5 separate regions of the Homo sapiens genome follow, and regions 2, 3, 4 and 5 are each linked to region 1. The links come from fine-mapping of genetic effects on gene expression. A gene starts in region 1. Each other region holds a variant in brackets. All regions are shown on one strand. Distances are from middle to middle.

Region 1 (5,178 bases):
ATAGAATTAAATCAACAAAAACTGTTGATCATTGACTGTGCATATGGCACTGTGGCAGCTTCCCAGATCTACAAAGCAAGTGAGACAGTATCTGTTGTTTAAGAGGTCATAATCTCTTTCGGATTAAGGTGATACAAAAATAATAACACAGAGAAGCTGAAGCATCATGGAGAGGCACACAAGGAATGCTTATTGAGGTCTGAATTTTTAAAAGACTGGACACGTCTTTAAAATACATTTGGTGTTCGTTAAAATAATCTAGTGTGATAACCTCTGGAAATCACATTATTTTAAATGGAGGGAACTAGCCTTCTTTAATTTTTTTTTTAAAAAGCAGTTGGAAAACTTGAAGACAGGGACTTACTTACCTTTCCACATGTCTCTGTCAGGAACCAGTTTTCTAGGAAGGGTGGCAGAAATGAGCTTCATATGTTTCTGGAATGCAAGAATGTAGAAAGGGGGGTGGAGGTTCAAAGTCCAGGTAGCCCTCTGTGAGAACGCAGGAATCAAATCAGGACAAACAAAAGAAGGGTGAAGTGGGTAGGGCAACGGAGTTTCGGGATTGACTGGAATGAGAGTTAAGGTGATAATGCTGGGGTGGAAATGAAAGTCAGACCCCTCCTTACGGACTGGGAAGAAAGGAGCCCTCCTAGTAAAGTTGAAAAGACCAAGTGTCCTCTTCTCCATTTCACCGGGGAAACGCTCCTGTGCCTAGTCGTAAGGTACAGGAGAGTCTATGGAGCCCATGGAGAGTCTAATGCAAAAACTAGTTTCCGACCAAACTTTGCCTTGGCCACTGAGCATGCTCAGCTTTGTCTTCTATAGAAAAGTGAACTCCGTGGCTCCAGATTTTAGCTATAGCAGCTGGAGGGCGGGAGTGAGTGTGGGAGAGCCAGCGTGGCAGCGGCCGCAGGTGGAAACCTGGAGTTTGAGTATGCTTGAAAGGGAAAGTGTGGAACGAAGGGGCGGCCGGGTGGGGAATCAGAGAAGCCCCCAAGGAAATGATTCATCATTGTGATTGACCTTGACTTTAGCAACCCTTCATTAAAGGAGAAAATTTGGTTATTCGGAGATGGGGACTGTGTTGCAAACAGTTACAGGCAAAGAGGGGCAGTTCAGGATTCCGGCCGTGGTCCGCAGGAATGAGTCGGGGCGAGGGAATGGTTGTTATAACCCAATAGTGAGCCTCCCCGGTCATCCGGGCTGGACGGGACTGGGGTTGTAGCAGAAAAGCAGGAGCTGTATGGAGGATGCTCACCTGGCAGCCTCGATCTGCCCCTCTTCCCTCGCTCCTCCCTCCGCACCAGCCACAGCTAGTTGTCAGGGGCCAACATCTGGGCCGGGCTGGAACTGGCTCAGAAACTCGCGTTTGCCTGCTTATTTCTGCAGCTGGGCTCCTTGCCAGGTGCAACCACATCTATGAGAATCTCGCAGACTCTCAGACTCCTATGCCTTTGCTGGTACAGGGAGGAGGATTTACTATCACTCACTGCATAAACCATGATCACCAGAGATGTGCTCCCAAGTTACAAAGCCTGCAGGCGGTGCCCGAGGACCAGAGGGCCGGGCGCGGCCAGCTCACACTTCTGGGGCAGCCGTGAGCAGCGGGCACACGGGCAGCCACGAAAGCAGCAGCGAGGGTGGTGCAAACACCTCAAAACTACACCGAATCCAGTAGCGCCTGGCGCCCCCGGCGCGCAAGGTACGCTTTGGGGCGGTCCTGTGTGACCCCGGAAGAGAAAGTTGTTTTGGGGAAGGGGAGCAAGGAGAGGAGTGCGAGTTAAATAAAACTAAATATCAAAGTTGTTCTGCTCTGCTCAGGCCGCCTCTACTCCGCCTCATCTTTGTCCCAAGTCCTTTCACAGTCTGCCTTCCTCAAACGGCCCGATGCGCCCCCGTCTTTGCCGGAGTAAGCAGACCGCCAGCAGCCGGCCCGCAGGTCAGTCGACCCTCTCTGGATGCAGGTCGCCGGGAAAACCCGGAGCGGAGCATCCCTCGGGCCGGGAAACGCCCTCGGCGCGCACCCACTGGCGCGCATGCTCAGTCCGCGCGGCGGCTGCGAGTAGGAAGCTCCGCGCGGCGGCGGGGGCGGCGACGGCGACTGGCGGGTGGGAGTGGAGGCACCGGCTGGCGGGCGGGGGTACAGGGACGGGGCAGGGGCTCCCGCTCCAGGTTCCTTGAAGCACTTCCGACCGCGAAGCCCGGCGCGAGAAGCGAGCTAACCCAAGAGCCAACAACGAGCGCGGAGAGGGCAGCGGACTGAGCGGAGCCGCCGGCCAGAGCGGGCTCGGAGCCCGGGTCTCCGCCGCTCGGGACCCGGCTAGGCGGCGGCGGGGGCGGCGATGTTCCACTGCATCCCCCTGTGGCGGTGCAACCGTCATGTGGAGAGCATCGACAAGCGCCACTGCTCGCTGGTCTACGTCCCCGAGGAGATCTACCGCTATGCCCGGAGCCTGGAGGAGCTGCTGCTGGACGCCAACCAGCTCCGCGAGCTGCCCGAGGTAAGGGTCCGGCCTCACCTGAGCGCTCTGCCCGCTCGTCTGCTGTCCCTTCCGCTCCCATCCTCTCTCGTCCCCTCTTCCATCTCCGGGTCCGGCGTGAAGGAACCTTCCCTCTTTTATGCATTCACCTGCTTCTTTCTCCCCCTGTCTCTTTACTTCCATCCTTTCCCAGTAAAAGTTCCTTTTCATTTTATTCAAAGTGACCGGATATTTTGCGCGTAGTCACTGGGGCTCGTGCTATTGGAGAAGCGTTCTGGACTGTTAAGTAACTTAGATCCATGCTAGGTACTGACACCTGGCACTTGTGCCCGGTCAGGTGAGAAGCCGGGTGATTCGGGCTGTTTCCATCTGGAAGCTACAGAGCACTGCATCCTCCCCCCCTCCACTCCCCGGGGTCGTTCCCCCACCAAGGGCCGGGCGCGCCTCTCCTTTAGTCAAGGCATGTCCCGGAGGACCTTGTGACCTGGGCAGCGCTCAAGCGGGCCGCACTATCTCGGCATCTTGGGAGGAATGAGGAATGTGCTCCGTGCTTTATCGCGGGTGGGCTTGGCCGGCTGGCCTGCGGTGGCTGCGGGGGTGGACGCGAGATGGGCGCAGGGGAGAGCTGGGCCTGGAGCGCTAGGGGCAGGTGCCCAGATGCCGGCCGCCCGGGCCTTGCCTACGTGGACCTGTTGCGTGGTGGGAGCTGCGGTGAACGTCAGCGGAGGCTCTGCCCGCGGGCCAGCCTTGCAGCCGCCTTTCCCGGAGCGGGCACAGTCGTCCTGCTGACTTTCTCTCCTTGCAGTGATGCGTTATCTCTTCAGAGTTGTTTATGTAAATTGATCACTCCATTGCCGCCGAACTTGTCAAGCGACATGTGCTGATGGTGCTTTGACCGAGAGTAGGGGTACAGCGAACTTCTTTCAAGCTTGCCTCGGGAACTTAGCTAGAGTAACCCCTCGGGGAAGGTGTCTCAAACCCAGGTGTGTGCAGGAAGTCGGTGTGCAATAATCCAAAGGTGTGCAGGAAGTAGGGAGACTGCTGGCAGTCGGGGATTGGACCTGTTTTAGGCCTGAGCTTTGGAACGCAAACTTCTTGTTGCCCTTTAGTTAACACAAGCCAAATCATTGTCACAGAAACACTAGTCAAGTGTTCTGACTTGTTAGAATGACCTGATACGTTCTCCAGCGCTGATGGAGCATTTAAACAATAAGAACTGTGTGTTTTTCTCAATATTTTAAGTGGTGGTGTTCTTCTTGGATTAACTTTCCTGGGTTCATGTGGAATTGATTGGATGTTTGCTCTGTGTAATCATGGAGATTATCCTCACTAGGACCTTTGCAAAGCCCCCCAGGCTTTATTTAGCTTAGAAGCAGCAAAGCCATCAAGTTCCCTCAGGCGTTTATTATTTCGCAGGCATTTTCAAACACATGATTTTTTTCTGGCCTTTTACGTCCTTGAAGATTTCTTACCAGTCGTCAGCTCCCTCACTGCTTTAAGTTGTGTAATTTTAGGCAGTGATATCACCAGGAATATAGAATATGTAATTTAATAGTTTTCAGGGGCTTCAGGATGACATTATTGAAGATGGAGTGAAAAGTTATTCACTAGAAATGATTCATTGCTCTTTGTGGTATTTGTTTTTTTGTTTTCTTTTGTAGAACTGGAAGATTTCCTTTGACTGGATTGGCTTTTCACTCCCTTCTGCAGGGTTTGTGGGTTTTCCTGTAATGTTGGGGAATTCAGCTTGGCATGGGAAATTACATAATTTCCCATGCCAAGCCGAAATGTCAGGTCTTTCTGTGATCCTAAATGGAAACTTGTCAGAATCTCAAAATATAGTCTGATGGCACTCTGTAAATATGGTAAATAAACAAGCTTTTCAAAGGTTACAGGTGATCTTGCTAATGGATTATTATTGCTCTAACAGCTGTTAAATTAGTATTAAAGTTTTTAGGTTGTGTAAAATCTACTTCTCCCTGACTTATTGTGTGTCTTGGTGCCTGGGTGTGTACATGCCAGACATGAGAACCACCTTGCAAACATAGATATCTGTTCCATCCCTTCCATTCTTTCCTTGGGCTATCTGTTGTCTCACCTCTGAGATCTGTATAACTTATTACCACTGGTCTCTGCTGCTCCTGCTCCAAACCCCTGTCTCCTTACCTGCCACACACAAGCGCATCTGTTTTGTTCACAAGCCTCAAAGGTCCTTATTTTGGTGGCCATACCAGCTGTATGTTCTCCTCTCTATAATTTGTTTGGAAGCACAGCTTAAGGGGAAGCCGGTACCCCTTACCAGGGCAGCAAAGATGCACTCTCCAGGTTTCAGTGTAATAACAGCCACCTTCTTTCCACTGAAAGGCCTGCAACTTCTGGTTTGCGCCAATATCTTCCTTTTACAAATTCAGATTCAGAATTGAGGTGACTTTCTCAGGGCTGTCCAGTGAGTTAGATGCAGTTGCTGGTGGGTCTTGTTCATTCAGATGTCAGCCAAATACAATTGCTTTGGACACCTAGCAGGAATCTTCTATCCTGCTTCTCACACCCATCAAATCTTTATTTAGTCTCTCCTGTTTTACTCATGTCATTATAACTTAGCCTTAGCCAAGCATTTATTGAGACTCCATTATTTACAAGTTATTGGGAATATAGAGATTAAAGGAGGCATGATTCACATCTTTGGGAGGAAGCAGAT
Region 2 (5,178 bases), 140 kb after region 1:
TTATGATGACTTGTATAATTGTTTTATTACATATTATAATGTAATAACAATAGAAATAAAGTGCATGATAAGTGTAATGCACTTAAATCATCCTGAAGCCACCCTCCCTCACTGGTCCATGGAAAAATCATTTTCCATGAAACTGGTCCCTGGTGCCAAAAAGATTTGGAACAGCTGCTCTAACCCTCCCACCACCTTCACTCACTTCTTGTATGTTGTCCTGGGCTAAGGGCTGTGGAAATGTTCATGGGGTCTTTGTTCTACCATCTCAAACTATGTGCAAATCCTAAGAAACTTGTGAGATAAAGTATTTGGCTAGTGGGAAAAAAAAAATTGATAACGTTTTTAACATTAACTGGAGTGACAGTTTGGTAATTGGCTCTCTGAGAAAGCTTCAGCATATTCTGAAAATTGGCAGGTAGCTCCAGAGTGAGCTAATTAGTTAGGAATGACTTTTAATACTCACTACCTTTAATAGCCTACCCTTGGAGAAAAGACAGATAATGAACACTGGGAAATCTATGGTGCTGCAACTTGACCTTTGTGCCATTTGGGGGAAATGAGGAAGATGAGTCATAATTTATTATTTAAAGTCCTCCTTTTATAATGTGTTGTTGTGAAAGATTTGACAAATAATGATTGCTCCTTTAGGGACTAATTTAATCAAAGAAGCAGAAAACAGGAAGAATAGAAAACTTGTGTGACTAAGCAATGTTTAATTTTATTTGAAACTGGCTCCACCACCCTGGTGATAGGAACAGAAGGTCCTATGGAGTCTTCCCATAGCAAGAAACCAGGCTTGTAACAGGGTGTAATAGAGTGACACCCCACACCTGATGCCCTGTAAATGCAGAGTCTGCAAATGCCTCTCTTTTGATGCTTTCTCAAGGTAAGTCATAAATGAAGTCTTACTGCTTTAAAAAAGTAGCTTGCCAACAGTTGCCCAGGCTCCCCATGGGACTGCGCTTCACTGAGCACCTGAAGAAAGTATTCACTGGAAATGGGCTCTCCTGGGAGACTGTCTGGATCCCGAGTGTCTGGCGTTCATGTTCCCACACCTGGCTGCTGCTTCTTGCCCTTCCTTGGCTGCAGGTGTGAGTGCTTGTTTGTTTAAACCTCGCTCAGCACTGCTTGGAAAAACAAAACAACATGGTTACTTGTCTGGGCATTGAATGTTCTTCCTGAATTTTGGTCCTGCCCATTGGCCCAGAGGCGGAATGGGTGGGGCAAGTTTCGGTGTGAGTTTGGGAAGTTTCGAGAAGACGCTATGGGCTGGGTCTGTTAGGTTGGGGTTGCTCTTGGTTTTAATCCTTTTGGAATGTCTTGAGGGTCAGGAGCGTTGCCATTGATGGCTATGGGAGTTGTCAGGCTGTGGCTCTCTTTCTCACAGAGAATGCCAGAGGCACTCGGGAAGGCATTTGCCAGGGCTCTGACAGATGTAAAGTAAGCCTTATCCATGTTGTGTTCTCACCTGGACACCTGGAAGGTGCTCAGTATAGAAAAGTCACGAGCTAGATGAGATACCAGCTTGATGTCGACTCCCTCCCCAACAATGGCTGCCTGTCTTCGTCTTGATGCCTGCCAGCAGGTAAAGGGGGTGTGCCCCTGGGACCTGGGTAGCAGCAGTCCTTGGGAAACCCAGGGTTTGTCACCTGTGGTCACTTGACCCTTGGTAAATTACCTAACCTTTTCATTCCACATCTCAAGGACAGCAAATCCATGTAGCAGTTAGGTTGTTAGAAGAAATGATGTTGACAACCAAATGTGAAGCTCTGATATGGTTCTTTTCCGGTATCATAGCTACTTGCTCTTTAAAGAACTGGTACAATGTTGGGGGCAGAAAAACCACATCATGCAGTGATGTTGCTCAGTCAGGCATACAGGTAGAGAAGAGCTGTCTCTATCCTTAGCTCCTTAGGTTTGTCCAGGGCTGCTCAGTGTGGCTGACCCTGTCTTGCTCACTGTCATGTAACCTGGAACCTACAACATCACTGCATGATGTGTAGACCTGGAACCTACTGTAGTATCTTTTTCTTGAAGGCTGTATTGTGCAGTAGTTTCCAAACTTGAGCATGCATCAGAACCCCCTGGTGGCAGTGTTAAAGCAGATTGCTGGACCCCACTCTCAGAGTCTGATTCCATAGGTCTGGGGTGGGGCCTAAGAATTTGCACCTCTAACATGTTCTGAGGTGCTGCTGCTGCTACTGGTTCAGGGAACATACTTAGAGAA[C/CCA]CACTGCTCTAGTGTGCTGGAAGGAGCAGGAGCTTTGGAGTTAAGCAGATTTAAATCCAGCTATGGCACTTACTTAATGTTGTGACCTTGAGAGGTTTTTCTTAATTTCCCCAAGTCTTAGTGAACTCGTCTGTAAAATGGGAATAATACTTACTTCAAGACTTTCTAGAGAATTAGATGACAGAGCACATAGAAGGTTTTCAGCAATTACCACTCTTTTTGCTATCCTGAAACGCATCATATTTGCTCCATATGGGGAGGCATAAGAGCATCTGGTCTTAGCCATGTGTTGACCTTTAGGCTCTTCTTGCCAATCTATACAAGCTAATAGGAGTAGAGGAAGTGCTAACGGAAGTAGAAAGCATGTTTGCCTCTGGGTGAGTGCCTAAGGGGAAGACTGAAAATGTGGATGGCCAGATGTGGCTAGAATATATTAACACTTCCTGACTTGCCTGGTGGCGTATCAGCCCACACACCATGGACTCTCAGTGAGCAGGAACCAGATCTGTGCCTGACATTCAGGTCACAAATCTTCCAACCCACAATCTGTCCTTATACCTGGGCTTTTGGAAGAAATCTTCCAATCTTGGTATTTCAGATTGGGAAACACCGAAGCTCAGGATCTCCAACCTCATCTGTATTCTTCATGTAGCATCACAATCATTTTAGTGTCCTTAGGAAACAAGTTGCCTTATTCAACTGTTCCAAGGTTTAATGACTCTCTCCAAATGCATTATCCCGTTGTCATACTAAGGATGATCCTGAAAATAGGTAACTGGTATGGAAATATATGGTAATATGTAGACCAATACACACATTTTAGAAACTGTCCCTTTTTTGTCATATAAAGCAATATTATGTGTATCATAAAACTACTTCTCTAGAGATCTGAGTAGTAGTTCTAATCATTTATCATATTGCATAATTATGCATATCATATATGCAAAATTTTTGCATCTTTAGGGCTTATTTAATGTAGGTGGCTGCTATCTAAATGATGCCCTTCCCTGGGCCACCATTTGCTTTGGGAACATCAGACTTTTTTGATAGCATTCCTATTAAAATACTCAAGTCCAGGGGCTCTTAAACTATAACCCATTGCCTGTTTTTATAAATAAAGTTTTCTTGGAACATGACTATGTCCCTTTTTAAATGTGCAGAGACCAAATGGCACTCAAAGCCAAAAATATTGATTATTTGACCCTTTATAGACAGTTTGCAGGGGTTTCTGCCTCTAGTCAATAGGTGCAACCTGCTATCTTTTGCCACCAGACGGCGTTGGATGTGTCGCCTGGTTATCACAGCCAGACACCAGTCTGGACACCCTGGCTTTCCAAATGGGCAGAACTCAGAGAGCCTGTTCCTTGTTCCCTACCAACAGCATGACCTGCCCTGCCACTTGCTCTGCCAACTCTGGGATGCTTTGCAACAAATGCCTGGGGTCACCCCCTTCTCAGGCTGCTCAGGAGCTATAGCACACCCTCAACACTCTCTTGAGTCCCAATGCTATTATGTTTGGGGACCCTACTGTTATCTTACATTTCTATTCAATTTTCTTGAAGGATGGGCTGTATGCCTGGCTAAGCAACATCACTGCATGATGTGTAGACTCCATGACTGAAACCAGCATCCTATAGGAAGAGATGCAATATTTTAAAAATGGCCAAGGCAGCACATTTAGATACTGAATGTCAGCCTTATTTTATGGAGGAAATAAAGGCTTTCAGGAGCGAATTGCCAGTTTTTATTCCCTGCTACCCTCACCCACAGAATGCCTTTGCTGGACTCTGTCCTCTCCCAGACCTCACTTCCTCATCACAGCTAGCTCTTCCAGCCACTCTCCGATCCTTTTTCTCTTAGAGTTTGCTCCATTGATGATCCATTTTATCCCATATCTCAGCAGCTTCTATAAACATGTTTAGATACCACTCTAAATGAGCAAAAAACCTTGATCACCTAGGTCAAAAACCTAGAGCCACTGCACCCAGCCCTGATAGGCATTGTTTCTAAATCCTTGTGGCTACTTTTACTCAACTTTAATTGTCTCAAGTGTTTTCATTACAATTTTTGAATTAGGAATAGAAAATTGAATTGGCAAATAGGAAAATTGTTTTTTGATTACTACGTGAAGACTTACTCTAAAGACCAATTTACTTTTTGCTTTACTTTTAACTTTTGAGTCCCTGAGAAATAGACTCTTAAGTCCCCTCCATCATAGTCTTCCTTACTCTTCTCTGCCAAGGTTCTTAAAACAGGTCTATTCTTGTTCTCCCTGCTTCTAAGTTTCCATGCACTACCGTGAGAAGTCTGGCTCCCATACACAGCATGGTGGAACTGCTCTAGCCAGGTCAGCAGACCTCTGTGGGGCCACATCTGATGGACACTGATTCACCTCTTACCTTTCTAGACCTGTCTGCTGCATTTGACTCTGTGGAATGCTCCCTCTTTCTAGAAATTTCTACCTCAGTGCTTTTCTAACTTTTCTGACTGCAACTCAACTTTCTTGAAGGAACCTGTCACGTAGTAACCCAGTAAACACATACATGTACATAGCTGAAACTAAAGTTTCCCAACATAGTGCTTTTTCCTTAACTGTATATAAGGAACTCTGATATTTCCAATTTCATTATTTTTAGTGCTAATCAAAACCAAATAAATTAATTTCACAACTCATTAACAGGTCATGTCTTGCAGCTTGAACCCTTATGCTTTTGACACACCTTCCTCTGTAATGAGTAAGGAAGTTTCTAGGAAGTTTCTTACCAGTTGATTAGCATCAAATTTATAGTTTAACCTGTAAGAAGCTGTGTTGGAGGAAACCCATTAGCTTGGATGAGAGTGGGAGGAAGGTAAAGAAAAATTAGATGTAATAGGTGTTTGTGGTTGTTGATGGGGTGAAAAAGGGCAATGACAAGAGGAAGACTGGGTTTGTAAATAGGACATGTAGG
Region 3 (5,178 bases), 23 kb before region 1:
TTACATATGTAGCTTTATTTTGTATATCGTGTTTGATTGCTTGTCTTGCCTTGTTAGAACATAAGCTCTGCAATGCTACCCTCATGGAAGCATGATAGCACATAGTGGATTTTAGTTAATATTTGCTGAATGGAAGAATGAATGAGTTCATTGGATTTTCAATGAATGATTGTGAATCTGATACTGTTCTTGGCAACCTGAATATGAATAAAATATACAGTCTTTGCTCTCTACAGAAAGTCCACATGCTAGACTCTTTCCCTGCCTCCGCTCCCAGGCCTGTTCATTTGCCTCAGACAATCTTATCTAACAAACACTGAACTTTTGTTTTTACCCCTTTTTCCTTTTCTTATATTCTCTGTCTCCTTTTTTTTTCCCTCAACTTTTGCCTAATTATAATAGGGGAATATTTGTTCCTCCCCTAAAAAATATCACTGAGTGATGAACATTAAAAAATAGTGTTAGTAATTACACATTTATCAAGAGAATCAATTTTGGAGAGAAAACAGTAACAATAGTATTATTGACTGTGAATGTCTATTAAGTGCTCGCTATATACCTGACTCCGCCAAGCAATTATGTGCATTGCCTAACATAATCAGTACAGATAAGAAAAGGATGGTGCAAGAAGTAACTTGCCCAGGCCACAGAGCTGGTAACTGGTCTGAACTCATGTCAATCTGATTCCAGATCTTGACTTCTCCCAGGGGTAACAGGGAAGCTGAATTGCTAATTTCCAGTATAATTCTCTCTGTGGGGTTTCTCCTCCATCCCCTCACACATTACGAGCAGAATGAGATGTTGCTTTCTTCACACTCCTATAGCACTCTGCTCATACACTACTTCAGCTCTTATCACATAAAATGTTTGGTATGCATCTGAAAAGTTCAGCTGGGTACATTTTCACTCATTACCAGTGTTATAAACTATTTGATTCCCTTTTCATTGCAATCAGGGTTGTAATAGAAGTAGGAGCTTCAGGTTTAGACAGACCAGAGTTCAAAAGCTGGCATCTGCTACTTACTAGCTGTGTCATGATGGGGAAATTATTTAACCCTTCTGAATCTTAGCATACTCATGTGTAGCATGAAGATAATGATACTCGTGTAGTGGTGTAATAGGAATAAGCTAAGATATGTCTGTAAAGGGCCTGGCATAGTGTCTCAGACAACATAGGTGCTCAGTGAGTACTTTTCATCTCTCTCCTGCCCACCTTGACTCTGATTCTCCCACTACATCTTACACAGCATTTCAGCTATATTACATGTTACCTACTATGGTTTGCATTAGTTTTCTATTACTGCTCAACAAATTACCCAAACTTAGCAGCTTAAAACACAAACACTTATTATCTCAAATTTTCTCTGGGCCAGAGATCTGGGACCATCTTAGCTGGGTAGTTTTAGGTTGATCTCTTATGAGGTTACAGTCAAAATGTCAGCCGGAGCTACAGTCATCTCAAGGCTCAACTGGGGGGAAAATTTGCTTCCAAGTTCACTGACATTGCTGCTGAGATGCTTTAGGAGATCTGTGTCTTAGTCCATTTTTGCTATAAAGGAATAACTGAAGCTGGGTAATTTATAAATAAAAGTTTTTTGTTTGTTTGTTTGTTTTTGGCTCATGGCTCTGCATCTGTTGAGGGCCTCAAGCTGCTTTCACTCATGGAGGAAGGGGAAGAGGAGCCAATGTGTGCAAATCACACGGGGAGACAGAAAGTGAGACAGAGGAGGTGCCAGGCTCTTTTCAACAATCAGTTCTGTGGGAACTAACAGTGAGAATTCTCTCACTCCTGTGAGAATGGCACAAAGCCATTCATAAGGGATTTGCTCCTACAATCCAAACACCTTCTGCCAAGCCCCATCTCCTAAGGGATTTGCTCCTACAATCCAAACACCTTCTGCCAAGCCCCATCTCCAACACTGGGGATCAAATTTCAACATGAGACTTGGTGGGGACAAGCAAACCATACCCAGATTATAACAATCTGCTCTAAGCTTACTCCTGTGGGCTTCTCTATAGGGCTATCTCAGGACATGGCAGCTGGCTTTCCCCAGAGCAAGCAACCCAAGAGAGAGTGAGAGACAGCACCCAAGATGGAAACCATAGCCTTTTTATAATTTGATCTTGAGAGTGACAGCCCATGACTCTTACTGTATTTTATTCATTAGAAGTGAGTCAATAAGTCTGGCCAACACTCAAGGGGAGGGAATACTACAAGAGCACAAATACCAAGAGGTGGAGATCACTGGGACCATTTTAGAGTCTGCCTATACCACATGGTTTAAATAGTCTTACAGAGCTAACCTGAGGATTATGAGCCAGCCAACCTCATTTTATAACCTCTTTTTTTTTTGAGACAGAGTCTCACTCTGTTGCCCAGCCTGGAGTGCAGTGGCATGATCTCGGCTCACTGCAGCCTCCGCCTCCTGGGTTTAAGCGATTCTTGTGCCTGAGCCTCCCCAGTAGTTAGGATTACAGGCACATGCCACCATATCCAGCTAATTTTTGTACTTTTAGTAGAGACGGGTTTTCACCATGTTGGCCAGGCTGCTCTTGAACTCCTGACCTCAGGTGATCCACCCCGGCCTTCCAAAGAGCCGGGGTTACAGGCGTGAGCCACCATGCCTGGCCATCATCTCATTACCTTTTATAGAAAACTTAGTCTTGCCTTTATAAAAGGGACTGACTTACTCACCTTGAGACCATAAATATTACTAAACTGGGTAACATGCTATACCAGTAATAGA[G/GT]TTCAACACAATCTAAAAAATAATGATAATGGTGATAATGATTTCTTTTGCATAGACTTAGAAGTTATCATACTATCTTTCCATTCCTATTCTATGTAAAACTACATTTTTTCTTTGATTCATTTTTTTAAAAACTATTTCTTCTAAGGCTGTCCCCTTGGTACATTTTACACTTTCTTTTCTTTGGTCTGTAGACACACACACACCCAGCTTCCTTCCTCAGGGAGCACCAAAGGTCAGGTAGAAAGTCATGGAGAAATAAAAATACCACTTTCAGCCCTTACTGAAAGGGCAACTTGTTTGTTATTCCCAACTAAGCCACAGTGTGCTCCAATTATCTCCCCAGAGCAAAATGTCCTGCCTATGACTTATCTTCTCTCTTTTTTCCCCTTTCTCTTGCTGGCTGCCTTTAGTTATGGCACTGCCTGGTTGCATTAGCTTCTAGTTGCAACTAGATGCCTAGCTGCATCCCCTAAAGGGGATGAAATTGATCAAGTTTGATATTTATATCCATTCAGGTTGATAATAAAGATTATATAACTACTAAAGTATGTAAGATATAAGTAGCAAAACATATTTAAATATACATTAAATTTTTATTTTACAATTATTTTTTAATTTTTTAAATTAAATTAAATTTTTATTTTACAATTATTTTTTAGTTTTTTAAATTAAATTAAATTGTAAAAATAATTTAATATTTTACAATTATTAAATATACTGTGTATATATATATATCTCCAAGCAGGTTATATACATATATATATATATATATTAGATCCAACAATAGAGGTATGATAGTTCATGTTCTTCTATTTCTATGAATTACTGAGAATCCATTTTATTAGAGAAATAGAGTATCTATAACTTTCCATCCTCAACAAATTCTGCTTTTGCATCATTCTTTCTCAGTAGAAAGAAATAAGGAGCCAGATGAATATACATAAAAAGGAAGATAAGGGACTATGGACAGATGAATATATATTCTGAGGTAAATGAATTTGACTTTGTACTTTTAATGTAATTTTCCCCCAATTCTTGTGATACAGCATGTCTCAGAAAGATTAAAACTGGTATCAGATGGCCGAATAGGAACAGCTCCAGTCTACAGCTCCCAGCGTGAGCGACGCAGAAGACGGGTGATTTCTGCATTTCCAACTGAGGTACCAGGTTCATCTCAATGGGGAGTGTTGGAAAGTGGGTGCAGGACAGTGGGTGCAGTGCACCAAACGTGAGCCGAAGCAGGGCGAGGCATTGCCTCACCCGGGTAGCGCAAGGGGTCAGGGAATTCCCTTTCCTAGTCAAAGAAAGTGGTGACTGATGGCACCTGGTAAATTGGGTCACTCCCACCTTAATACTGCACTTTTCCAACAGTCTTAGCAAACTGCACACCAGGAGATTATATCCCGCACATGGCTCGGAGGGTCCTACACCCAAGGAGCCTCGCTCATTGCTAGCACAGCAGTCTGAGATCAAACTGCAAGGCGGCAGCACAGCTTGGGGAGGGGCGCCTGCCATTGCCAAGGCTTGAGTAGGTAAACGAAGCAGCCGGGAAGCTCGAACTGGGTGGAGCCCACCACAGCTCAAGGAGGCCTGCCTGCCTCTGCAGACTCCACCTCTGGGGGCAGGGCATAGCCAAACAAAAGGCAGCAGAATCCTCTGCAGACTTAAATGTCCCTGTCTGACAGCTTTGAAGAGAGTAGTGGTTCTCCCAGCACGCAGCTGGAGATCTGAGAACGGACAGACTGCCTCCTCAAGTGGGTACCTGACCCCCGAGTAGCCTAACTGGGAGGCACTCCCCAGTGGGGGCAGACTGACACCTCACATGGCCAGGTACTCCTCTGAGACAAAACTTCCACAGGAACGATCAGGCAGCAACATTTGCTGTTCACCAATATCTGCTGTTCTGCAGCCTCCACTGCTGATACCCAGGCAAACAGGGTCTGGAGTAGACTTCCAGCAAACTCCAACAGACCTGCAGCTGAGGGTCCTGACTGTTAGAAGGAAAACTCACAAACAGAAAGGACATCCACACCAAAACCTCATCTGCACGTCACCATCATCAAAGACCAAAGGTAGATAAAACCACAAAGATGGGGAAAAAACAGAGCAGAAAAACTGGAAACTCTAAAAATCAGAGTGCCTCTCCTCCTCCAAAGGAATGCAGCTCCTCACCAGCAATGGAACAAAACTGGACGGAGAATGACTTTGACTAGTTGAGAGAAGAAGGCTTCAGATGATCAAACTACTCCAAGCTAAAGGAGGAAGTTCAAACCCATGGCAAAGAAGTTAAAAACCTTGAAAAAAAATTAGACAAATGGCTAATGAGAATAACCAATGCAGAGAAGTCCTTAAAGGACCTGATGGAGCTGAAAACCAAGGCACGAGAACTACGTGACAAGTGCACAAGGCTCAGTAGCTGATTCGATCA
Region 4 (5,000 bases), 120 kb after region 1:
GAGAGGAGAGTTAAGGAACATATTGTGCAGTAGTATGATTGATTCATGGATAGATGGAGTTGGTGGTATATGTGTGAGCATGAGTATGATGAATGAGAGCCAGACCATAAAGAGTTTTTGGCTAGAAGAAATTGAGCTTATATCCAAGTTTAGGGTCCTGTTTTCTTTTTGTCTCCATTAAGTCCAAATGAAAGAGACGCCAACTAAGCCACACTTACCCAGTCAGATGAGGCAACATAGCATTTGCAGATCATTCATCAAAGCTTTTTTCAGTCAGGCAACCTGTAAATATTAATTACCCATAAATATTACTATGATACTCAGAAATGCCTGTGGTGATAGAATATTCATTTTGTGGATAGTTTTTCTGCCTTCTTATTATTGCAATTCAAAATTCTTTCAGTATAAGTTTCCGTTGTATTCTAAAATGAATTATTGATTAAAGACATGATATAGAATATAAAAATATTAGATAAAATATAGTTGACCATCAAATTTCAAGATGGAGAAGTAATTCCTAAACTTGAAATAAGTCATAAAAAATAGTTGATGGATTGTCTACAGGAAAATTCGATTTCTGATCTTCAAGAAGGTAAAAGCAGCCTTTACTTTCTTGAAAGGGGGCAGGGAGACATTTAAGGCATCTTAAATGAGAGATCTGTCTTTACTCTATTAGAAGTTCTTCTACACCAATAAGGAAAAGATGTATTTACTATAGAGAAGTAGACAAAAAGAAACTTCCACAAAAACCAGCAAGTGATTCACACAAGAACAAATAGAAATGGCAACTAATGTGAAACAATTTCAGCCTCATCAGTATTCACAAAAAAATTTAATAATGCCAAATTTTGGCAAGGGTGGAGGGAAATATATATTATCATGTAAATATAAATTATTATGACTTTCTGGAAGGGAATATGATAATAGTAAAAACTTTAGAAATGTGCGTACCCTTTGATTCTGCAATTCCACGTCTAGGAAAACATTTATGGATATACACTAAGAATGATGTACAAGAACATTTCTCACATTATACATGGGAGCAGGCACCATACCAAGTGTCCACAGAGGCAGCTAACATGTGCCAGGCATGGTGCCAAGGGCTTTTGCACTTATTCTTATCTAATTATCACAACAGTTCTATGAGGTATAGGTAAACCATTTTCAATGTCCAACAGATTGTGAAACTAAGACTGAGAGAGGTTAAGTCACTTGTCCAGAGTCACACAGCAAAGAAGTGGCAGACCTAACTAGCATTGTCTAACCTGGGCAGTTTCTTAAATAATCTGTGATACATCCATAGAAGGAAATAACTATGTGGTCCATAAAAGTCCTCTTAGAAGCATTGTTAAAGTGTGTATGTATAATCACAAATGCAAGGCAGTGGTACTGGAAGATTGTACCTCATAATGTTAATACTGATTATCCCTTTGTGGTAAGATTTGATTTTTTTTCATTGTGCTTTCCTGTGCATGTATGTTTAGTTTTTATTTTTCTAATCAATGTAAGGTACTTTTTTATAATCAGAAAAAAAAAAAAGAATTCCGTAGCTATTAGTGGATATTTTGATGTCAGTGGCCTCAGAATTCAGGGAATCCCAAAGCCACACAATTGCCAAAAATATTTATGAAGTAGGGAACATTTGAATAATATGCCATAGATGATGGGATTCTAAAATTATGCTTCATATTATTTTTGTTCAAATTGCGTTTTGGCCAGATTTTACTTATTGTACACTTTTCTTTTTTTGCCAATGGGGTGTGTGTTCAATTATGTTACAAATAATATTAAAAGGAATATACTGAAGGAAAGTGAAAGTTCCCTTATACTTAAGGCAAGCATTTAAAAAATGGAAGATAAACAGACGTGACTAACATAGGCTCCCTTTTTGAATCACTGAATCTGTCTCATGATCTCCTCCTTGGGTGAGCTAACCTGCAGGCAATTAATACCTAGTGAAAGTTGACCTGAGCAGAGGTTTGCTCAATAATCTGCAGAACCTATTTTCTTGAGATGGGTTAAATCAGTGCATAACAGCTAAGGAGAGTATCATTTTGAATTAAGAGAGACACAAAATGGCTGGACAAAGATTCTCAGCTATATTCCATAATTCTCAGAGAATCCAAGTCCAACCCCTTGTATTCTGGGAAGGTGCTATTATGTGGTTTAAGGGAAGCTTAAAAATATCAGCTTCCTACATAACTGGTAATAAGTTATTTAAACAGTGACTCTGCTTCCCAGAACTTCTAAGTGATACATTTTATCCTGATTACCACTGAGAAACCTGTAAACTCTGCCTCCTGAACCCAAAAGAGAAAGCCAAAATATATATGAATGATGTGTATAATGTCAGTCTTCATTATTATTAATACAAAATGTCACTGCGATACATCGTTAGGGAGATGGGTTTTTTAAGACATTCGGGTAAGTTCAGGAAAGAGACTGCCAGCATCAGTACAGTTCTAAGAACATAGTAGGTATTCAGGTGTTGATTGTACTCATCATTTGGATCTGAGGTTTTTATTTCCTGGAAAAAAAAATAGCTACCACATTTATTTGGCAACAGCAAAAGGCCAGTTTCTATGATAGGCGCCAAATTATATATGTGGTTTCATTTAAGTTAATCATTATTGTTACTTTTGGTTAAAGTAACATATCCAAAACCACAAAACATATGACTGAGCCTAAATTCTAGCCCAGGTCTGTATGGTCTCAAAGCATCCGCTCCCTCCATCATACCGCATCTCCCTCTGACGTCTATAATGAACTATATCTTTTCAGTTATGGGTTTGAATGCTTAATAATCTTTTCTAAAAACCAAAGGTTGTGCCATCCCTTCCTGGCTGATTTGGAAAGAGGGCTGTGTTTATGTGAATGTTCGCTGGGACAGCATGTGCCTTTGTGGGGTGATTAAGGCATCCCTAGCACACTCTGCAACAACATGTGCTCTTTGTTGGCATTGTTTTTCATAAACCATAGACAATAGAGATCAGGAGGTCACACTGCCTGCTTTGACAACCCAGAGGGCCTAAGAGGCTCTTGTACGCAATTGCTTTCCACCCCTTGA[C/T]GTCTCAAATGGGTGTGAGATTAGAGTGGGAAAGGAAAAAGAAAAATGAAACAATAACACACAGTAGACAGCTCACACACTTCATTGAAGTTTACACAATATGTTCCCAAATGATTAATGGATCTTGTCCAGAACATTTATTTAGAGCCTTCTCTGACCCACTTTAATTAATTAATTTTTTTGACTACATAATATATGCATATGATACAAATTGAAAATGTTCACATGGTATAGCAGTAGGGCCCCAAAACAGATATCTTACAGGTTGGTGTGGTGGGAGGGCAGTGGACAGCTTCAAGACAAGATGCCCAGAATTAAAATGCAGTCCCAGCTCTGTATGTCTTCCAGGAGCTGATTATCCCATCCGGACGATCATATGAATGATAATATCTGCTTTGCCCCCCTTGGGTCACACATAAATCCTGTCTCTTCAAAGCTAGATCAGGACGCTAGCGGGGGTCTTCAGCCTCAGCCAACTGCTGACTTGGAAGCTCTCCTTCAGGGCATGCAGCCGTACCTCTGAACCCCAGCCTGACACCGAAGCTCCTCCACCTGGAGCAGGGATGCGGCAAGGGTGCCCCATGGGAACCTAGTCATTCTTTCTCATGAGTAGATCTTTGTCAGGATTGTCTAAATTTATCAGAGACTCTAATAATATTGATCATCAAAAGGATCAGGGTTTTGATTGCTTTCCTTCCATGATATTTCTGGGCACCTAGGTAGAATTGTTGATTCCCTTCCTCAAGGGAGGGAGAATATGCTCAGCCATATGGGAAATCCACACTATATTGGGGCTTGATGTTTCTAAAACCTAAGAAAGGCTACTCTGGTGATTCTTACTGGAACAAAAAAGAGTTTTGTTGTCTCCACTGCTACACATAGAGGCAGATAACTTTTAAGTAGAGGTCTTTCACAAGTAAGTAAATAAAGTGTATAAACATATGTAAATGAGAAATTTAGTGGGCAGAGAGGCTATGCATGGTGGGTAGATAGCGTGAATACTATACTTGCCAAGTACCTTGAGTGTACATAAACATGTGCAAATAAGCTGTAACTCAGGTAAATGATCTTAGGGTTCTTCATGTGGTATTTTGTGCTGTCAGAGGGTTAGACCGTAATTATGAAATGCGTGTTATTATATGGACCAAAGCGTTCTGTGAAGACTCAATGGAGGAATAGACGATGTTTAGCTAATTTTGGATCATTGGTAAGATTTAAAAAGGCATTTCTATAAAAAACAATGGGATCAAAAATATAAAAATGTATTTAGGGTATAATGACTAGACCATTTTTGCTGGGATGAGAAATATGTGAATGCGGAGACTAAAGGGAGTAATCTAAAAGCCTTTCTACATATCTGGGTGCTTTCCACATGACCAGAGACAAATGTTAGTCTACATTTACTTATATATTTATTTTTCTTTTATATACATTATGGTTAAATATTGTGGTTCAATACATTATTTTGAAATCTTTATATTTTTAAGGGAGGAAATAAAAAGATTATGTATGAAAGTAATTATGTAGCCATTCACAAAAATATGCATTCTGCTTTTGAAGATATTTTATACATATATTAAACACATGTATAAATAGAAAAGGGCAGAAGATATATTCAGATATCATTGACCATTCAAGTCTTGTGCTCTTTCACAAGTGGGAGGCTCTGGAGTAGTATTTTTCCATGTGTTGGAGAGACATCAATAGGTTCCTTCATGAGCCTTTTCTAGCAATTGCCCTTAGTCAGGAGAGTGAGTACAAGAAGAATGTAGTACTTTATGGAGTCCTGCAGAATGTTGTGTCTGGGATCAAGCTATTTTTCTGCCCTCTTGATTCAGTTTTCCTGACTGTAAAAACCACCGCCAATTTGTTCAAGAGAATCATTGGATTTTTTTGTGTGTTTATGTTCCTTTTTGAAGACCAGACTCATACA
Region 5 (5,000 bases), 81 kb after region 1:
GATTCAACTATAGATTTGACAGCTATATATATATGATATATATATAATATTAGTGAAAAACAAACACTATGGTCCTACTTTCACAAATAAGCTATTATATTTATGCTATTACTTTCATAAATAAGCGATTATATTTATATAAACTAGGACCATAGTGTTTGTTTTTCACTACCTCATTTGACCATGCAAGGCAGAAAATAGTGTGAGGAAAATGTTAGCATAGATCCAAATGTTTTACACTTTTAAATTTGAACTAAAATCTTTCATGTAGCATCTGATTATTGTGAGGTTGTTGGAGCAAGACATCCATTTTTTCTTTAATTCTCCCTTTTCCCTATCACCCACAATTTAGAAATATTAAGTATGTTTTGGCTCAGATTGAATGAGTCAGACTGGTGGAAGAAACAGCAAGAACCAGGAGAAATCTTTCTATTTTAGCCATTCTCAATGTTAATATGTCCAAAATAAATGAATTTTTGAAGTTAAATGCTGCAGACTAACCTTTTAAAGGCCTAAAAGCTATAATCTCAAGTTTTCTATCAAGAAAGGAATTTAAAATAGCAACTTTGGTCTTTTAAAAATCACAGTATTTAAAGGCCAGTAAATATGGGGGAAAATGTTCAGCTGCAATAGTCATAAAAAGAATACAAAATAAAATGTTGCCATACTATTTTAGCAATACAATTGGCATTTTTTAAAATGTAAAAGAAAGAAAAGAGGAGGAGAGATGTTGAATACGGCATCTTGTACAGGCTGATGAAAGTATAAGTGGGCATAAGTTGCTGCTCGCAAAAGCAATTTAACAATATTTTTCAAGCTCTGTAGAGATGTTAATGCCTTTGACACAGTAATTCTACTTCTGGGAACATAGCCTAAGGAAATAATCAGGAATGCACATACATATAACATCAGGAACTTTGAAACAACCTAAATGCCCAACAATGGAGGATTGATTAAATGAAATATGAAAATATATACAATGTGCTTTTCTGCCATTAAGAACAGCAAACTACTTGGAGAAATAATGATAAGAGAAAAAAGCTTGTAAAGTAATGTAAGGTGCAAAAAACAAATTATCATGAACTTAGTATTGTGAAATATAATCTATTTATACACATATTCTGTGTGTATATGTGTGTGCACACGTGTGTGTGTGACAAGTAAAAAAAAAAATCACAATAAAAGATTACCTCTAGGTGATGAGAGTGTTGGTGGTGTTTATTTTCTTCTTTGTATATTTTACAAATATTTATGTTTGTAATCAGGAAAAAAATCGTAATTTAAAAGTGCACTACTTTGGAATACCTGGTACTGATACCACCACATGAAAATATAAGGAAAAGAAAGTCTAAAGGTAATTACAACAGAATGCCATCAGTGCTTTTGATAGAGTGATGGGACTTGATGGTGGTAGTGGCGGTTTTTGTTATTTTATTATTTAAATGATTTGTTAAATAATTGTACATATGTATGGGTACATAGTGATGCTTTGATACATATAATGTACTGTGTAATTACAAGGTAATTAGCATACTCATCTAAAGCATTTATCATTTCTTTGTGTTAGGAACTTTCTATATCCTCCTTTCACCCATTTGAAACTATATATTATTGTTAACTGTAGTCATCTTACAGTGCTATACAACAGCAGTTCTCAACTTTTTTTGGCACCACGGACCGGTTTTGTGGAAGACAGTTGTATTAGTCCATTTTCACACTGCTGGTAAAGACATATCCGAGACTGGGCAATTTAAGACAGAAGGGGGTTTAATTTGACTCACAGTTCCATCTGACTAGGGAGGCCTCACAATCATGGTGGAAGACAAGGGGGAGCAAGTCACATCTTATGTGGATGGTGGCAGGCAAAGAGAGCTTGTGCAGGGAAACTCCCCCTTATAATAACTATCAGATCTTGTGAGACTTACTTACTGTCATGAGAACAGCTCAGAAAGACCTGCCCCCATGATTCAGTTACCTCCTACCGGGTCCCTCCCACAACACATGGGAATTCAAGATGAGATTTGGATGGGGACACAGCCAAACCATATCATTCTGCCCCTGGCCCCTCCCAAATCTCATGTCCTCACATTTCAAAACCAATCATGCCTTCCCAACAATCCCCCAAACTCTTAACTCATTTCAGCATTAACTCAAAAGTCCACAGTCCAAATCTTATCCAAGACAAGGCAAGTCCCTTCCATCTATGAGCCTGTAAAATCAAAAGCAAGTTAGTTACTTCCTAGATACAATGGCAGTGCAGGCATTGAATAAATACAGCCATTCCAAATGGGAGACATTGGCCAAAACAAAGGAGCTGCAGGCCCCATACAAGTCTGAAATCCAGCAGGGCGGTCAAATCTTAAAGCTCCAAAATGATCTCCTTTGACTCCATGTCTCACATCCAGGTCATGCTGATGTAAGAGGTATGTTCCCACGGTCTTGGACAGCTCTGCCCCTGTGACTTTGCAGGGTATAACCCCTTACCTGGCTGCTTTCACGGGCTGGCCTTGACTGTCTGGTGGCTTTTCCAGGTGCACAGTGCTATCTGTTGGTGGATCTACCATTCTGGGGTCTGGAGAATAACGGCCCTCTTCTCGCAGTTCCACTAGGCACTGCCCCAGTAGGGATTCTGTGTGGGTGCTCCAACCCCTCATTTCCTTTCTGTACTGCCCTAGCAGAGGTTTCCCACGAGGGCCTTGCCCCTGAAGCAAACTTTTGCCTGGGCATCCAGGCATTTCCATACATCTTCTGAAATCTAGCCA[G/A]AGGTTCCCAAACCTCAATTCTTGATTTCTGTGTACCCGCAAGCTCAACACTATGTGGAAGCTGCCAAGGTTTGGGGCTTCCACCCTCTGAAGCAACAGCCCAAGCTATACTTTGGCCCCTTTTAGTCAGAGCTGGAGTGGCTGGGATGCAGGGCACCAGGTCCCTAGACTGCACACAACATGGGGACCCTGGACCGGGCCCAGGAAACAATTTTCTCCTAGGCCTCTGGGCCTGTGATAGGAGGGGCTGCCATGAAGACCTTTGAACATGCCCTGGAGACATTTTTGTCATTGTCTCAGGGATTAACATTCAGCTTCTCGTTACTTATGCAAGTTTCTTCAGCCAGCTTGAATTTCTCCTCAGAAAATGTTTTTTTTTCTATCATGTTGTCAGCCTGTAAATTTCCCAAATTTTATGCTCTGCTTCCCTTATAAACTGAATGCCTTTAACAGCACCCAAGTCACCTCTTGAATGTTTTGCTGCTTAGAAATTTCTTTCACCAGATACCTATATCATCTCTCTCAAGTTCAAAGTTCCACAAATCTCTAGGGTAGGGGCAAAATGCTGCCAGTCTCTTTGCTAAAACATAACAAGTCACCTTTGCTCCAGTTCCCAACAAGTTCCTCATCTCCCACCTCAGCCTGAACTTTATTATCCATATTGCTATCAGGCTTTTGGTCAAAGCCATTCAACAAATCTCTAGGAAGTTCCAAACTTTCCCACGTTTTCCTGTCTTCTGAGCCCTCCAGACTGCTCCAGCCTCCGCCTGTGAACCGGTTCCAAAGTTGCTTCCACATTTTTGGGTATCTTTTCAGCAGCAACCCACTCTACTGGTACCAGTTTACTCTGTTAGTCTGTTTTCATGCTGCTGATAAAGACATACAAAAGAAAGAGGTTTAATGGACTTACAGTTCCACATGGCTAGGGAGGCCTCACAATCACGGTGGAAGGCAAGGAGGAGGGAGTCACATCTTATGTGGATGACGACAGGCAAAGAGAGCTTGTGCAGGAAAACTCCCCCTTATAATAACCATCAGGTCTCGTGAAACTTACTATCATGAGAACAGCACAGGAAAGACCTGCCCCCATGATTCAATTACCTCCTACTGGGTCCCTCCCACAACACATGGGAATTCAAGATGAGATTTGGGTGGGGACACAACCAAATCATATGAGCAGTTTTTCCACAGACCAGTGTTGGGAATGGTTCTGGGACAAATGAAGCTCATTACATTTACTGTGCACTTTATTTCTATTATTATTACATTGTAATATATAATGAAATAATTATACAACTCACCATAAGGTAGATTCAATGGGAGCCCTGAGCTTGTTTTCCTGCAACTGGACAGTCCCATCTGGGGGTGATGGGAAACAGATCATCAGGCATTAGATTCTCATAAGGAGCACACAACCTAGATCCCTCGCATGGGCAGTTGACAATAGGGCTCATGCTCTTATGAGAATCTAATGTGGGCGCTGATCTGACAGTAGGTGGAGCTCAGGCAGTAATGCAAGTGATGGGGAGTGGCTGTAAATATGGATGAAGCTTTGCTCACCCGCCTGCCGCTCACCTCCTGCTGTGCATCCCGGTTCCTCACAGGTACTGGTTTGTAGCTCAGGGATTGGGGACCCCTGCCATAGAACACTAGAACTTACTCCTATAGCTATAATTTTGTCAGAGATTTGATGTTTTTATTATTTTTCTTTAATGTGCTTCTGTTGAGAATATAACTTATATTAGGAAAGCAAATATAAATATATTAAAATACTTTATAAGTCTAGGTCATGTTTGAATGGAGGTAGGAATTTCCAGATATTCTCTTGTGAGTGTGATCCATCTTGAGAGTGATGAAAACTGTTAATAATGGTGGCAAATTATAGACATTTTCTCTACTCCTGCAGAGATTCCTGAAATTCCAGAAAGCATTTCATTCTGTAAAGCACTGCAGGTAGCTGACTTCAGCGGAAACCCACTGACTAGGTAAGCTTTCTGCTTACTTTTCTGTCTATACTAGTAAGAGTATCTTTTTTGAGAGCCAAGCGGAGAACACAGTCAGGTTAACCATCTTGGAGGTACCTAGATGGATCACTGTCTTTATCAAGGATGGTTGACTTTCACAGATATTTCTTTATAAATAGCCCTGTACAATGAAAGGCGTACTATTCTATTGATAGAAACCTCAAAGTATGTTGTAGGGATAAGGTGCAGCACAGTGAAGTGTACAAAACAGGAT

The links. PIP is the estimated chance that this variant, and not a neighbour inherited with it, causes the effect. A credible set is the group of variants that fine-mapping cannot tell apart.
Region 2: its variant is the best candidate, but not a certain one, in a credible set for the expression of LRRC1 in fibroblasts (GTEx, PIP 0.82).
Region 3: its variant is the best candidate, but not a certain one, in a credible set for the expression of LRRC1 in whole blood (INTERVAL, PIP 0.83).
Region 4: its variant is the best candidate, but not a certain one, in a credible set for the expression of LRRC1 in subcutaneous fat (GTEx, PIP 0.57).
Region 5: its variant is the best candidate, but not a certain one, in a credible set for the expression of LRRC1 in T cells (TOPMed, PIP 0.70).

What each region holds. Positions count from the first base shown.
Region 1 is chr6:53,792,915-53,798,092 of GRCh38, forward strand. It overlaps LRRC1 (leucine rich repeat containing 1), which reads left to right and starts at 2,091. Exons shown (of 14, transcript NM_018214.5): 1 at 2,091-2,501. The coding sequence starts at 2,343. It overlaps LOC124901333 (a long non-coding RNA gene), which reads right to left and starts at 761. Exons shown (of 5, transcript XR_007059619.1): 1 at 627-761; 2 at 369-435. RefSeq lists silencers at 782-911, 1,957-2,196 and an enhancer at 2,163-2,875.
Region 2 is chr6:53,928,690-53,933,867 of GRCh38, forward strand. LOC101927189 (a long non-coding RNA gene) reads left to right here and starts at 1,293. Exons shown (of 4, transcript NR_125842.1): 1 at 1,293-1,588. RefSeq lists a silencer at 402-696. The variant C/CCA (reference allele first, on the strand shown) is at 2,231.
Region 3 is chr6:53,770,217-53,775,394 of GRCh38, forward strand. LOC124901334 (a long non-coding RNA gene) reads left to right here. Exons shown (of 3, transcript XR_007059620.1): 3 at 3,797-3,883. The region is part of intron 2 of LOC124901333 (a long non-coding RNA gene); the gene reads right to left. Among named protein-coding and RNA genes, the nearest start is that of LRRC1, 22 kb to the right of the region's middle. The variant G/GT (reference allele first, on the strand shown) is at 2,748.
Region 4 is chr6:53,908,083-53,913,082 of GRCh38, forward strand. The region is part of intron 10 of LRRC1 (leucine rich repeat containing 1); the gene reads left to right. Among named protein-coding and RNA genes, the nearest start is that of MLIP-IT1, 88 kb to the right of the region's middle. The variant C/T (reference allele first, on the strand shown) is at 3,068.
Region 5 is chr6:53,874,325-53,879,324 of GRCh38, forward strand. LRRC1 (leucine rich repeat containing 1) reads left to right here. Exons shown (of 14, transcript NM_018214.5): 3 at 4,669-4,747. Among named protein-coding and RNA genes, the nearest start is that of LRRC1, 82 kb to the left of the region's middle. The variant G/A (reference allele first, on the strand shown) is at 2,763.